3 separate regions of the Homo sapiens genome follow, and all the other regions are reported to be linked to region 1. Evidence: microRNA targets listed by miRTarBase, many of them from high-throughput screens and not tested one by one. Region 1 holds a microRNA gene; each other region holds the end of a gene's coding sequence.

Region 1 (4,066 bases):
CATGCCTGGCTAATTTTTGTTTTTTTTTTTTAGTAGAGACGGGGTTTCGCCATGTTGGCCAGGCTGGTCTTGAAGTCCTGACCTCAGGTGATCCGCCTGCCTCAGCCTCCCAAAGTGCTGGGATTATAGCTACCGCCCAGCCCTAATTTACATTGCAAATGGCGATGCTTTGCCTGGCTCAAAATTCTGAAGGAACCGAGGATTGTGTGGAGGAGACGCCAGCTGAGCGCTGTCCATGCACCAGCAACGGGCAGGGGCCAGGTAGCCGCCACCACGGTGAGCGCTGTACACGCACAGCACCTAGAGCTGCTTCCCACAGCAAAGGGCAGGGGTTGGGTAGCCACCATGACTTCCCCTCTACACGGAGGACACGCCTGTGCCTTGACCTCCCCCCTTGACCCTCTGTGGCCCTGCGTCAAGGAGGAAGCCTGGAGGTGGCCTGGCTGCCTTGCCCTTCTTCCCAGCCACAGGGTGCTCTAGGTGGAGGGACTATGGCCCGGCCAGCTTTCCACAGGGATCACTGGCTTGGCCGAGTCACCCGTTTGCGGGATTTCTGTAGATCGCCGGCAGGCTTCTAAGGGGTAGTTACGATGGGATTTGATTTGCACTTCACTGGTCAGCAAGCACCTGGGTGGAGAGGTATGGAGAGGGGAGGCAGGTGTCACCATTGCCCCTGGACAGATGCCTGGGGCTGTGCTGGTTGGGGAGGACTCAGGTGGAGGAAGAGACCACCTTTGGGGCTGAGGAATGTGAGTCTCAAGGAGTGGGGTGTGGTGGGCAGTTTGGGGCTCTGCTCCCGCCTGGCTCCTGAAATACCGCTGGGCACATGGATGCCTGGAATGTGGGTGGGAGGGTGGGAGGGCAGGGCTGGGCTGGTGGGGCCTGCAGCGGGAAGGGGAGGCTACAGGGTGGGGTCTGCTGGGCGGGGGGTCTGCTGGGCGGGGCAGGAACAGTAGGGAAGACCCGTGGGCTGGGGCCGGAGGGCTCTCTGGGATTGCAGGCAGGCCAGTCCCCTGCACCCCCAGGCAGGTCTGCTGGGCTGGTCTGACCCGTCAGTCGGCTGGGCTTCATCTCTGCTTACTGACTAAGGGGTGGCTGCGAGGAGGAGCCGCTGCTACCAGGGCATGAGTGGGCCCTCCCTCTGCCTCCCACCCCTTCCCTCCTTCCTGCCTCGCCTTCCTCCCTGCCGGCTCTCGGAGCAGCCTGGCCTGTGTGGCAGCCATGGACAGGTACAGCATGGAGGAGCTGATTCAGCTGGGCCAAGGTAGGGCAGGCAGAGCTGGGGGCTGTGGGAGGCAGAGGAGAGGGCCGGGGCCGCCTCTGGCAGACCTGTCTCTTCCCGTTGTCCACCGTTCTGTGCCGTCAGACCTGGGATGCAGGGATAGGCACAGCCCCCTCTCGGAGCTGCCCCAGGGGTGTGTGTGATGTGTGTCCCGGAAGCACAGGCCTGTCCGGACCTCCGTGGAGTGGTAGAAGAACTGCCCGCTGCCAGCCTGGGGCACTCCTCCCGCCAGGAGCTGGTTCTCACCCAGGCCATTGAGTCAGGCTCCTCTGAGGCTTCCCCAGCACGTGGCAGGGAGTGGGCTGAAACGTCCGGCCTGTCGGCCCCTGCCCACTGCTGGCCAGATGCTGTCCTGGGCTCAGCTGGGAGTTGGGCCCTTTCTGGCATGCCTGGGTATCCCTGACCCTCAGGGCTGCCTGGGCCCGCCCGACCCCTGGCCGCCCAGAGTGGGCCACTGCAGGCATTTCCCTCGGCCGCACGTTTTTGAGGTGTGGGGCTGGAGAGCAGGAGGCTGGGGTGGGCCCGGCCCTCTTGTTGTCCGCGGGCTTCCCAGCATGGACCTGGGTGGCCTGCCCAGTGGCCCGGGGCCAGGCTGGTTCACTGTGCCTTGCTGTGGGCTGAGGTAACTACACTGGAGGCCACCTGGGCTCAGATGGCAGCGTGCGGGACAGCAGGCGGCGCCTCAGGCTCCTGGTCTGTATGAGGCCTTCATGGTATAGGACTTCATGGGGTTTGCTGAGGGTTCCATGTGGTGCCAGGAGCGACGCTGTGGAATGGGGTATACCGTCAACGTGCATTCTCCTGGGCCTGAGGGGTGCGCCCAGCAGACAGGGGTCCCAGGAAGAGGAGCAGGACTGTGCGTGTCCCACGTCCTGTTTCCCCGGCTGCATTGGGATCTGATCTGCATAGGATATGCTGTGGGCCTGCCTGTGGCCCGGCTCTCTGACCCAGGCCTTCCACAGAGCAGGGCTTCGGGACTCCTGGGTGGAGCCAGGCCAGTCTCCTGCCGTGGCCCAGGAGAGGCGTCTCCATCCCAGATCCCTGGGACCCCAGGAGAGGCTGTGCTGTGGGGCAGGCGCAGGCCTGAGCCCTGGTTTCGGGCTGCCTGGGTCTCTGGCCTGCGCGTGACTTTGGGGTGGCTGTCCCGGCCACCGGTGGGGCCAGGTGCTGTGTTGAGTGACCTGCGCAGGGCCCTCTGGGAGAATGGGCGGCCTCTTCTCTTGGCCCCTGTGGCCTTTCCAAGAGCACCCCCTGGCTTGGCAGGGCAGGTGGGTGGGGACTGCACCGCCTCCTGCAGGGACGTGAGCCCGCACCTCCCGCGCCCTGCTCTATTATATTAGAACCCCCTGTGGGAGCTGGGGGACCGAGGTGTCGGGTGGCACCGTCCAGCCAGACCTGACTGCAGCGGGGCCTGGGTGCCCTGGCGCCGTGCGTCATGTTCCAAGTCTGGGTGGTGACGGTCCTTGCGCGCCCTCCTCGGATATTTATATCCCCTGGGCCCCTGCCCACTGCTCCCCTCCCCCACAAGCTGCTGCTGACAGCAGCACGGCCGTGCCCTCCTCCCACCCGACGCTGCCGCCAGTGGCTTGTGCCTCCTCCGAGGGGCCTGTGACCTCCCACACCCCTGGCCCGCTCCGTCTGCCCCGTGGGCTCCTGCCACCGTCCCCGATGAAGATCGTGCCCGGTAGGTGGGCAGCCCTTGAAAGCCTTGTGAAATCCTGGCCCCTTGCTGGGGACAGGGGCCAGAGGGCTGGGGCTGAGGCTGGAGGCCAGGGGCGCTGTCCCTCGCCCTGCACACAGCCTGCCTCATGTGCCCTCACCCAGACCCCCTCAGCCCTGGTCTGCAGTCTCACTTTTGGGGTGTTGGGGCTGGTGAGGAGGGCGAAGTTGAAGGAGTGCAGTGGGTTCAGCTGCAGGCTTGAGGTGGGGGCTCTGGCATCCCTCCATGCCTGCCAGCTGTCCCCAGAGGGCAGCCTTGGAGGCAGAGTGGGCTGCTCGGGCCCCTCTTCTGGTGGGGACAGCAGGGGGAGGCTGGGAGGGAGGGAGGGTGTGTGCCGAGGCCGCGGGCAGTGCTGGGGGGCTGCGGCTTGGCCAGGCGTGCGGCTGGCCCCTCCTCCCGGCGGGTGTGGCCGCGGGGACGCAGGGGTTAAGGCCAACTAACCTTGAGCGTCAGTAGCCCTGCGCAGGGACAGCTGAGCCGGCCGGGTGGGGAGCGAGGGTGGGGAGGCGCCGAGGGCCGGACCCGCGGAGGGAGGAGGAGAGGAGGCGGGCGGGAGCTGTTGTGGGGCTGCCGCCGCGTATGGGGCGGTCCTGCGGGCAGGGCAGGCTCCGGTCCCGGCGCTCCCCCTCGCTCGCCCTGCACGCAGGGAGGGGGCTGTCTAGCCTGGAGCAGCCGGTTCCCAGCGCAGGAAGGGCAGCCCTGGCGGCTCCGCGTGGCGGCTATGGAGCCCTCGGGCAGCCTGTTTCCCTCCCTGGTGGTTGTGGGTCACGTTGTCACCCTGGCCGCTGTGTGGCACTGGCGCAGGGGACGTCGGTGGGCGCAGGACGAGCAAGGTAAGCCCCGCTGGTGGCTGCCAGGGACTCGAGGCGGGGCAGAGGGGCCGCCTGCCTCCCGCCCCTTCATTCCCTGCGCCCTCCCCTTCCTGTTTCCAAGCTGAATGTCAGTGAAAGCAGTGTTGCCCCTCCACCCCACCCTGCAGTGTAGACCCTGACCCTGCTGCAGTCCCAGGGCGGGGCGGGCTCTGCAGTGGCCCTCAGCCTGCAGCCTGTGCGGGACAGGTGGGT
Region 2 (4,055 bases), not on the chromosome of region 1:
TGAGTTGTGATTGCACCACTGCACTCCAGCCTGGGTAGCAGAGCAAGACCTTGTCTCAAAAAATTAAAAATAAAAATACTTTGACATAGTCAAAGTTTGTGCTCTCTTTAATTTTTTTCATTATCAAAAGAGAATATTCTATATGGAATTGTCTGTCCTACCAAAGGTATGACCTTGTAAATGTGTATTTGTCTTTTCAATCCAATTCTCCTTTTATATCCATATTTTACTCATTTCTTAATTGTAATAAAGTGGAAAACTGATCTAATTATATATAAAACCTTGTGTCAAAATAGATTTAATGATTAACACTAATCAATTGCCAGGAGACAAAACACAAACAAAACAGATAAACCAAACAAAACTAAATCTACCACCAAACTTACAACAGGAATAGAAAATGGTGAAAGCAACAGAAATATATGTGACTGATACAATGTTGAGATACTTTCCCTTCAATCATTATAAGCATTTGTCAATAACAGTTCTATCATATTTTCCTTTTTATATTTAAAGTATCATGATCTCCACATTGGATGCTCTATAAATATCACAATCTTAATGATGAATTCTAGACTCATTCAAGTTAGAGCAACTGCTTTACACAAAATGATAGCAGTAGACAAATCTAGGCAGCTGCTTGGGTGGGGTGGGGTTCTCACAGGTTCTGAAGCTAGCTTGCAGTTAGAATTTTGGGAGTCAATAGAAGTAAATGAATTCATGAAATATTTCAAATTATGATTCAGTGCAAGATACATACATATCTTATAATTCTATTCATCATAAATATTTTCATATGTATATGAGAATACATCTAAATATATGTAACATGTACATATATAAATGTATGTATATATGAGAAATGCTTGTAAATTTCTGTCCCAAACTTAGAATTATGTACAAGATCCCTGAATTTCATAATTCGAGGCAGTGTAATTTTATAGGCATGACATGGGACTAGAAAAGTGTGCTCACTCATTCTAAACCCAGTTGTCACCAACCTGCTAGATTCTGGGCAAGTTGTTCTTCCATGCCTTAGTGTGATTATGGCAAAGTAGAATTTGCCTGTAGCCCTTTAAAGAGGATTAAAATAAGTGCAAAGTGCAAAGTCACATGAGCAAAAGTGCTTATGTAAAGCCAAGACACAAGGAATAGCAAGATTTTTATATGCAACGTGGGTAACTTTTAAAAGCAAGTTAGATTTCCTAATTAAATGTAAATGTTGCTAGATGATTTATTTGCAACAAGCAACAAAGAGACTGAGAATCTAAAAGGATAAAGTCTTTGGCAGTCTGTAATGATTAAGGACTTACTTTTATCTGCCTTAAGATGATGCATCTTAAAAGAGAGACATACACTCACATATGCACTGTAATATGATTTATGCTTTCTAAACTTTTAATTTGGTAGGAACTATCAAACATGTGGGTTTGCAGTCTCACTCCTGTAAAAATTATAAAACAAAATAAACAATGATCATTTTATAAGTGATCCTAAATGATAAGAAAATGTAATAGCCTGGCAAAAACATAAAGCACAGAAATTTCTATTCTATTTTTCAGGAGTATGTTATTTCTTGAGCTCCTGGAAGAGGAAACAAACTCACATATACCTACATACCCACCCAGATAAATTTGTGTGCATATACTCCAGAAATTTATAGCTTATATGCTGCTACATTCTTAAGGAAAAACTGGTTATACATATGATTTAGAAGAAGAGACAAAGAATGGGTTTATATGATTATGGTGTTTTCCTTTTGTGTTCAGACATATTAAGAGATGCAAAAGGTTTCTGGTAACATTAATCAATATTATTTTAAGAGCAGAAAAGCAAATTACTTTTTCCACATTCTCAAACTATTACTTATGAAGTTTAACAAATTTCAAAATAATCATATGTAGTTATACAGAGAGATAATTTTGCAACGAAGATGGGAGTATTTACTAATCAGTAACAGGGGCAACTTCATTAAGTTCTAGTGTCTCCTAGATTTTAGGTCTGTTTATTTGATAGCATAACAACCCTTGCAAATCCTTTTCATTGCAAACTTGTATCTTCTGAAGAACTAACTTCATAGCAAATAGTATTTTTTAGAAGAAGAAAACTACTGACCCCACTACCTATAATAAAACATGACTGACAGCAAGAGTTAAGAACTAAACTCTGCAAAATATGATGACTGCTGTGCAATAATTTAACATATAAAACCAAGTGATTATATTAAGGTCACAGATTTATACTGAAATGTCAAATTCTGTGAAGTATTTCTAACCCCCCGCCAAAAAAATCCTAAGAAAGAGTAGGTCCAATATCTTTTTGGATAATCTTTTTTTTTTTTTTTTTTTTTGAGATGGAGTCTCACTCTGTCGCCCAGGTTGGAGTGCAATGGCACAATCTCGCCTCACTACAACCTCCACCTCCCGAGTTCAAGCGATTCTCCCACCTCAGCCTCCCCAGTAGCTGGGATTAGAGGCACCCGCCATCATGTCTGGCTAATTTCTTTTGTATTTTTGTAGAGACGGGGTTTTGCCATGTTGGCCAGGCTGGTCTCAAACTCCTGACCTCAGGTGATCCGCCCACCTATCCCTCCCAAAGTGCTGGGATTACAGGCGTGAGCCACTGCGCCCAGCCTGACTTTGGATAATCTTAATGGTTAGACATCCTTGCTTTTTTAATATTCAACACAAGAAATCTATAACCTTTATCTGTACAAAGGATCCAAAGAGTTCACTAATTCTACCTATGCTCTTTATAAGAAAGATTTTTTTTGAACCATTAAAACAAACATTACAAAAAAGTGCTTTCTTCTTAACTGCAAGGATATAGAGTCAAAAAGTCTCTTATCAAGCTGATAATGATCAAGTTCAGGTCCAAGATGCAGACAGAACTTCTGTGGTACAGTACATGGACTTATTCTTCCTTTATTCCTTGCAGTTTGTCATAAAAAGTTGGATAGTCATGTCTTTTGTGGTCTTCTTCTTCTTCTTCTTCTCCTTCTCCTCCTCCTCCTCCTTCATCTCCTTCTCCTTCTTCTCTTTTCTTCTTCTTTTCTTTCTTTCTTTTTTTATTTTATTTTTGAGATGGAGTCTTGCTCTGTCGCCCAGGCTGGAATGCAGTGGCGTGATCTCAGCTTACTGCAACCTCTGCCTCCCAGGTTCGAGCAATTCTCCTGCTTCAGCCTCCCAAGTAGGTGGGACTACAGGCATGCCCCATGACGCCTAGGTAATTTTTGAATTTTTAGTAGAGACCGGGTTTCACCATGTTGGCCAGGCTGGTCTCGAACTCCTGGCCTCCCAAAGTGCTGGGATTACAGGCATGAGCCACCATGCCCGGCCTATCAAATAACACAAATTTCTTATACCAAAATGACAAGGTAGTCAGTGAGATGGGAGAGACATAGATTTTTTAAATACCCTAAATCCTTTTGTGTGCCCAGGATATGGTGGTGGTGGTGAAACACTGTGTTTTCTGGTCAGCGCCACTGCCTGTTCATAAGAAGGTAATCCTGCATCCTCCACAGAAGGCGGCAATGGAGACAAGGCAGCCTCCTCAGGTCTTCTGAAAATGATGGAGGGAGTGTGCCTCCCCCTTTCATAGACGGCTGAAGAGCTAAGCAGAGAGACAACATTTAGGTCTAGGAAAGGTAGCATTTTTAGGTTGAGAGGACAATATTTAAAAATCCAACCAACTATCTTAATAAACATTAAACACAATGTATTAATATAACAGTTTTATTTTACCCCCAGACTCTGAAAGTCTTGGTACAGTGGAAAGACCAAGAGCTTTGAGTCAGACATGGGTTTGAAATCTGATCCTGGGCCGGGCGTGGTGGCTCACGCCTGTAATCCCAGCACTTTGGGAGGCTGAGGCGGGCGGATCATGAGGTCAGGAGATCAAGACCATCCTGGCTAACATGGTGAAACCCTGTCTCTACTAAAAATACAAAAAAAAAAAAAAAAAAAAAATTAGCCGGGCATGGTGGCGGGTGCCTGTAGTCTCAGCTACTCGGGAGGCTAAGGCAGGAGAATGGCGTGAACCCAGGAGCAGAGGTT
Region 3 (4,055 bases), not on the chromosome of region 1:
CATAAAGAACTGTTCACAGATAGGTTGATGAAGAATGCTTGGTAGGTAAGCGCCTGTGTGTGAGCCGAGTCATTCATAAAGAGCTGTTCACAGATAGGGTTGATGAAGAATGCTTGGTAGGTAAGCACCTGTGTGTGAGCCGAGTCATTCATAAAGAGCTGTTCACAGATAGGGTTGATGAAGAATGCTTGGTAGGTAAGCGCCTGTATGTGAGCCAAGTCATTCATAAAGAGCTGTTCACAGATAGGGATGATGAAGAATGCTTGGTAGGTAAGCGCCTGTGTGTGAGCCGAGTCATTCATAAAGAGCTGTCCTTGTGTTGGTCTCATGGGCATCGTGTTTCCTCCGCAGAGCCAGCCCCAGTGCCTGCTGAGCCGTTTGACAACACTACCTACAAGAACCTGCAGCATCATGACTACAGCACGTACACCTTCTTAGACCTCAACCTCGAACTCTCAAAATTCAGGATGCCTCAGCCCTCCTCAGGCCGGGAGTCACCTCGACACTGAGGGCCCTCGGTGTGAAGATGAACCTTCCACCGTCTTCACTGCATCCTGGAGTGCAAAAATAAAATCCACTCAAGAGTCACAAGGCCCGCTGTGCATAATCGGTTTCACTTTTACCTTTTTTTTTTTTTTTTTTTTTTTGAGACAGGGTCTCACTCTGTCACCCAGGCTGGAGTGCAGTGGCACATTCTCGGCTCACTGCAACTTCCGCCTCCTGGGTTCAAGTGATTCTCCCACCTCAGCCTCCCAAGTAGGTGGGATTACAGGTACTCACCACCAGGTCCAGCTAACTTTTGTATTTTTAGTAGAGACAGGGTTTCACCATGTTGGCCAGGCTGGTCTCGAACTCCTGACCTCAGATGGTCTGCCCACCTCCGCCTCCCAAAGTGCTGGGATTACAGGCGTGAGCCACTGCGCCCGGCCACTTTCACACTTTTTACAGTGAGTGGTGAATTAGCAACAGTAACACTGATTATCCAACATATATTTTGGAATATCTACTATGTGCAAGGAATTTTTCTTAAACTCTAAGGTTATGAATCACTGGGCAAATCCATATAATTAGAGAATTTTAAGTGCTTTAGAGCGGTGTGATTCTACTGTGCTCAGCCTAGTCAATTTCGCATTAAACTGATTATCAGCTGAGTATCAATAATGTAATAGTGACTTCTTTTATTTTTTTTGAGATGGAGTCTCTGTTTCCCAGGCTGGAGTCCAGCGGCACAATCTAAACTCACTGCAACCTCCGCCTCCTGGGTTCAAGTGATTCTCCTGCCTTACTTAGCCTCTTGAGTAGCTGGTACTACAGGCTCACGCCACCATGCCTGGCTAATTTTTTTTGTATTTTTAGTAGAGATGGGGTTTCACCATCTTGGCCAGGCTGGTCTTAAACTCCTGACCTCATGATCTACCTGCCTCAGCCTCCCAAAATGCTGGCATTATAGGCGTGAGCCACTGCACCCAGCCAGTAATAGTGACTTCTAATCCTACAGCCCTGGTTTTTGATCATTAGAAACAGGAGTTTTGGCCAGGTGCAGTGGATAATTCCTGTAATCCCAGCGCTTTGGGAGGGCGAGGCGGGTGGAGCACCTGAGGTCAGGAGTTGAGACCGGCCTGGCCAACATAGTGAAACCCCATCTCTACTAAAAATACAAAAATCAGCCAGGCATGCTAGTGGGTACCTGTAATCCCAGCTACTCAGGAAGCTGAGGCAGGAGAATCATTTGAACCTGGGAGGCGGAGGTTGCAGTGAGCAAGATCGTGCCATTGTACTCCAGCCTGGGCAACAGGAGTGAAACTCAATCAAAAAAAAGGAACAGGAATGTTACTAATTTTAACTACTGCATTGCAAACAAATTGTATTGCAGTATTTTACCATCAGAAAAGGAAGGGAATTGTTTTGTTTGCCTCTGTTAGATATTTTATATAAACTTGAGGACATTTTCATTGGTGAGATTCGGAAGAGGTGAAGTTTCTTGCAGTACAGGGACGAAGTAGGAAGAGGTGAAGTTTCGTGCAGTACAGGGACGGAGTAGGAAGAGGTGAAGTTTCGTGCAGTACAGGGACGGAGTAGGAAGAGGTGAAGTTTCGTGCGGTGCAGGGACGGAGTAGGAAGAGGTGAAGTTTCGTGCGGTGCAGGGACGGAGTAGGAAGAGGTGAAGTTTCGTGCGGTGCAGGGACGGAGTAGGAAGAGGTGAAGTTTTGTGCGGTGCAGGGACGAAGTTGCTCCCCGCTGGCCACAGGCACTCAATGAGCTATTTTACCTATTTAGGGTTTCTGGGTTGGCCAAGTAACCTCCCATCCCTTGTGATAGATAACTTTAAGTCACACCTTTGGGGGCAATGTGGGGGGCTCCTGTGCATCACATGGAGCACGCTCCCCCAGCACTCTGCAGAGACAGACCCCCAGTCTGACTTAGAGAAAGTAACCAATGTAGGTGAGGGCCAGGGCACGGTGGCTTACGCCTGTAATCCCAGCACTTTGGGAAGCCAAGGCGGATGGATCACTTGAGGTCAGGAGTTTGAGACCAGCCTGGCCAACATGGTGAAACCCTGTGTCTACTAAAAATACAAAAATTAGCCAACTGTGGTGGTGCGTGCCTGTAATCCCAGCTATTCAAGAGGCTGAGGCAGGAGAATCGCTTGAACCCGGGAGGCGGGGTTTGCAGTAAGCCGAGATCATGCCATTGCATTCAGTCTGGGTGACAGCGTGAGACTGCATCTCAAAAAAAAATTTTTTTTTTTAAATATCAAAATTGAAAACTAGTATTGTGGTCATCTGCCTCAAATTGTGTTACCACACGGGAGACTTAGCAACTCAGCCAGATTCTTCTAAACACATTTTTTATAATAAAAGTGGTAAAACTACATTACCAAAAAGAAAATAGTAAACTTACCTAAAATCCACTATGCTAACCCACCCTTTTTTTTTTTTTTTTTTTTTTTTTTTTTTTGAGACAGCCTCACTCTTGCCCGGAGGAGTGGTGCGATCTCAGCTCACTGCAGCCTCGTCCTCCCAGGCCCAAGCAATCCTCCCATCTCAGCCCACTTTGTAGCTGGGACTGTAGGCACTGGCCACCATGTCCGCCTAATTTTTCTATTTTTTGTAGAGACAGGGTTCAAGAGATCTGCCTGCCTCGGCCCCAGAAAGTTCTGGGATTGCAGGCGTGAGCCCCCATTCCCAGCCATTAACATCTTACAGGATTCCCCAGTGGTGGTGGTAGGTGTAACCATTTTAATGTACCTACAACTTTTCTATCCTGCTATTTGCATTTTTTGGTTTTTCATTTAATAGTTCTCAAGCTGGGATCCGTGGAACTACTGTGATGGGCGGTGATGCTTTGGAAATGGAAATTCCCTTAATATTAAAATGAACATGAATATATTTTGATTTGCATATATTTTTAAGATAAAGCATGAGACTTGTATAAAGTTCTTTCCTGGCTGGGCGCGGTGGCTCATGCCTGTAATCCCTGCACTTTGGAAGGCTGAGGCAGATGGATCACCTGAGGTTGGGAGTTTGAGACCAGCCTGACTAACATGGTGAAACCCCCTCTCTACTAAAATTACAAAATTAGCCGGGCGTGTTGGTGCATGCCTGTAATCCCAGCTACTCAAGAGGCTGAGGCAGGAAAATCACTTGAACCCAGGAGGCAGAGGCTGCAGTGAGTGGAGATTGCAGCATCGCACTACAGCCTGGGCAACAACAGCAAAACTCCGTCTCAAAAAAATAAAGTTCTTCCCTTAGAACTAGTCCTGTTGGGCTAGTCTTTCTGGGATTTTGGTTTACTCTCCTCCACCCATTGGAAGGGCTTAAAACCGAATAGCCAGCACCAAGCACAGCTCTGCATTTTGTAGCTATCACTGCAGATGATTTCTTGATAGTCCATCTGGTGGCAATACAGTGGTCACCCAAGGGGCCATTGTTTGGGTCTATGTGATTTCCCACGTTCTGTTGGAGGCCGGGCGCAGTGCCTCACGCCTGTAATCCCAGCACTTTGGGAGGCTGAGGTGGGCAGATCACGAGGTCAGGAGATCGAGACCGTCCTGG

Evidence for each region. Region 1 holds the annotated microRNA hsa-miR-661 (UGCCUGGGUCUCUGGCCUGCGCGU, at 2,385-2,408, shown strand). A microRNA usually pairs through its seed, bases 2 to 8, with sites in the 3' UTR of a target mRNA and lowers its output. Matches are read on the target gene's strand: a 7mer-m8 pairs with bases 2 to 8, a 7mer-A1 pairs with bases 2 to 7 and ends in A, and an 8mer does both.
Region 2: miRTarBase lists PRRG4 as a target of hsa-miR-661. Seed matches in the 3' UTR shown: 7mer-m8 at 29-35.
Region 3: miRTarBase lists NDUFV3 as a target of hsa-miR-661. Seed matches in the 3' UTR shown: 7mer-m8 at 670-676, 7mer-m8 at 1,208-1,214, 7mer-A1 at 1,668-1,674 and 7mer-m8 at 3,020-3,026.

The regions. Positions count from the first base shown.
Region 1 is chr8:143,943,548-143,947,613 of GRCh38, reverse strand. MIR661 (microRNA 661) reads left to right here and starts at 2,335; the gene lies at 2,335-2,423. LOC124902040 (a long non-coding RNA gene) reads right to left here and starts at 3,750. Exons shown (of 2, transcript XR_007061144.1): 1 at 3,444-3,750; 2 at 1-2,048. It also overlaps a transcript of PLEC not described here. RefSeq lists enhancers at 1-117, 118-905 and a silencer at 3,434-3,703.
Region 2 is chr11:32,852,853-32,856,907 of GRCh38, reverse strand. It overlaps PRRG4 (proline rich and Gla domain 4), which reads right to left. Exons shown (of 6, transcript NM_024081.6): 6 at 1-3,612. The coding sequence ends at 3,381. Among named protein-coding and RNA genes, the nearest start is that of PRRG4, 25 kb to the right of the region's middle.
Region 3 is chr21:42,908,513-42,912,567 of GRCh38, forward strand. It overlaps NDUFV3 (NADH:ubiquinone oxidoreductase subunit V3), which reads left to right. Exons shown (of 4, transcript NM_021075.4): 4 at 352-4,055. The coding sequence ends at 509. Among named protein-coding and RNA genes, the nearest start is that of ERVH48-1, 15 kb to the right of the region's middle.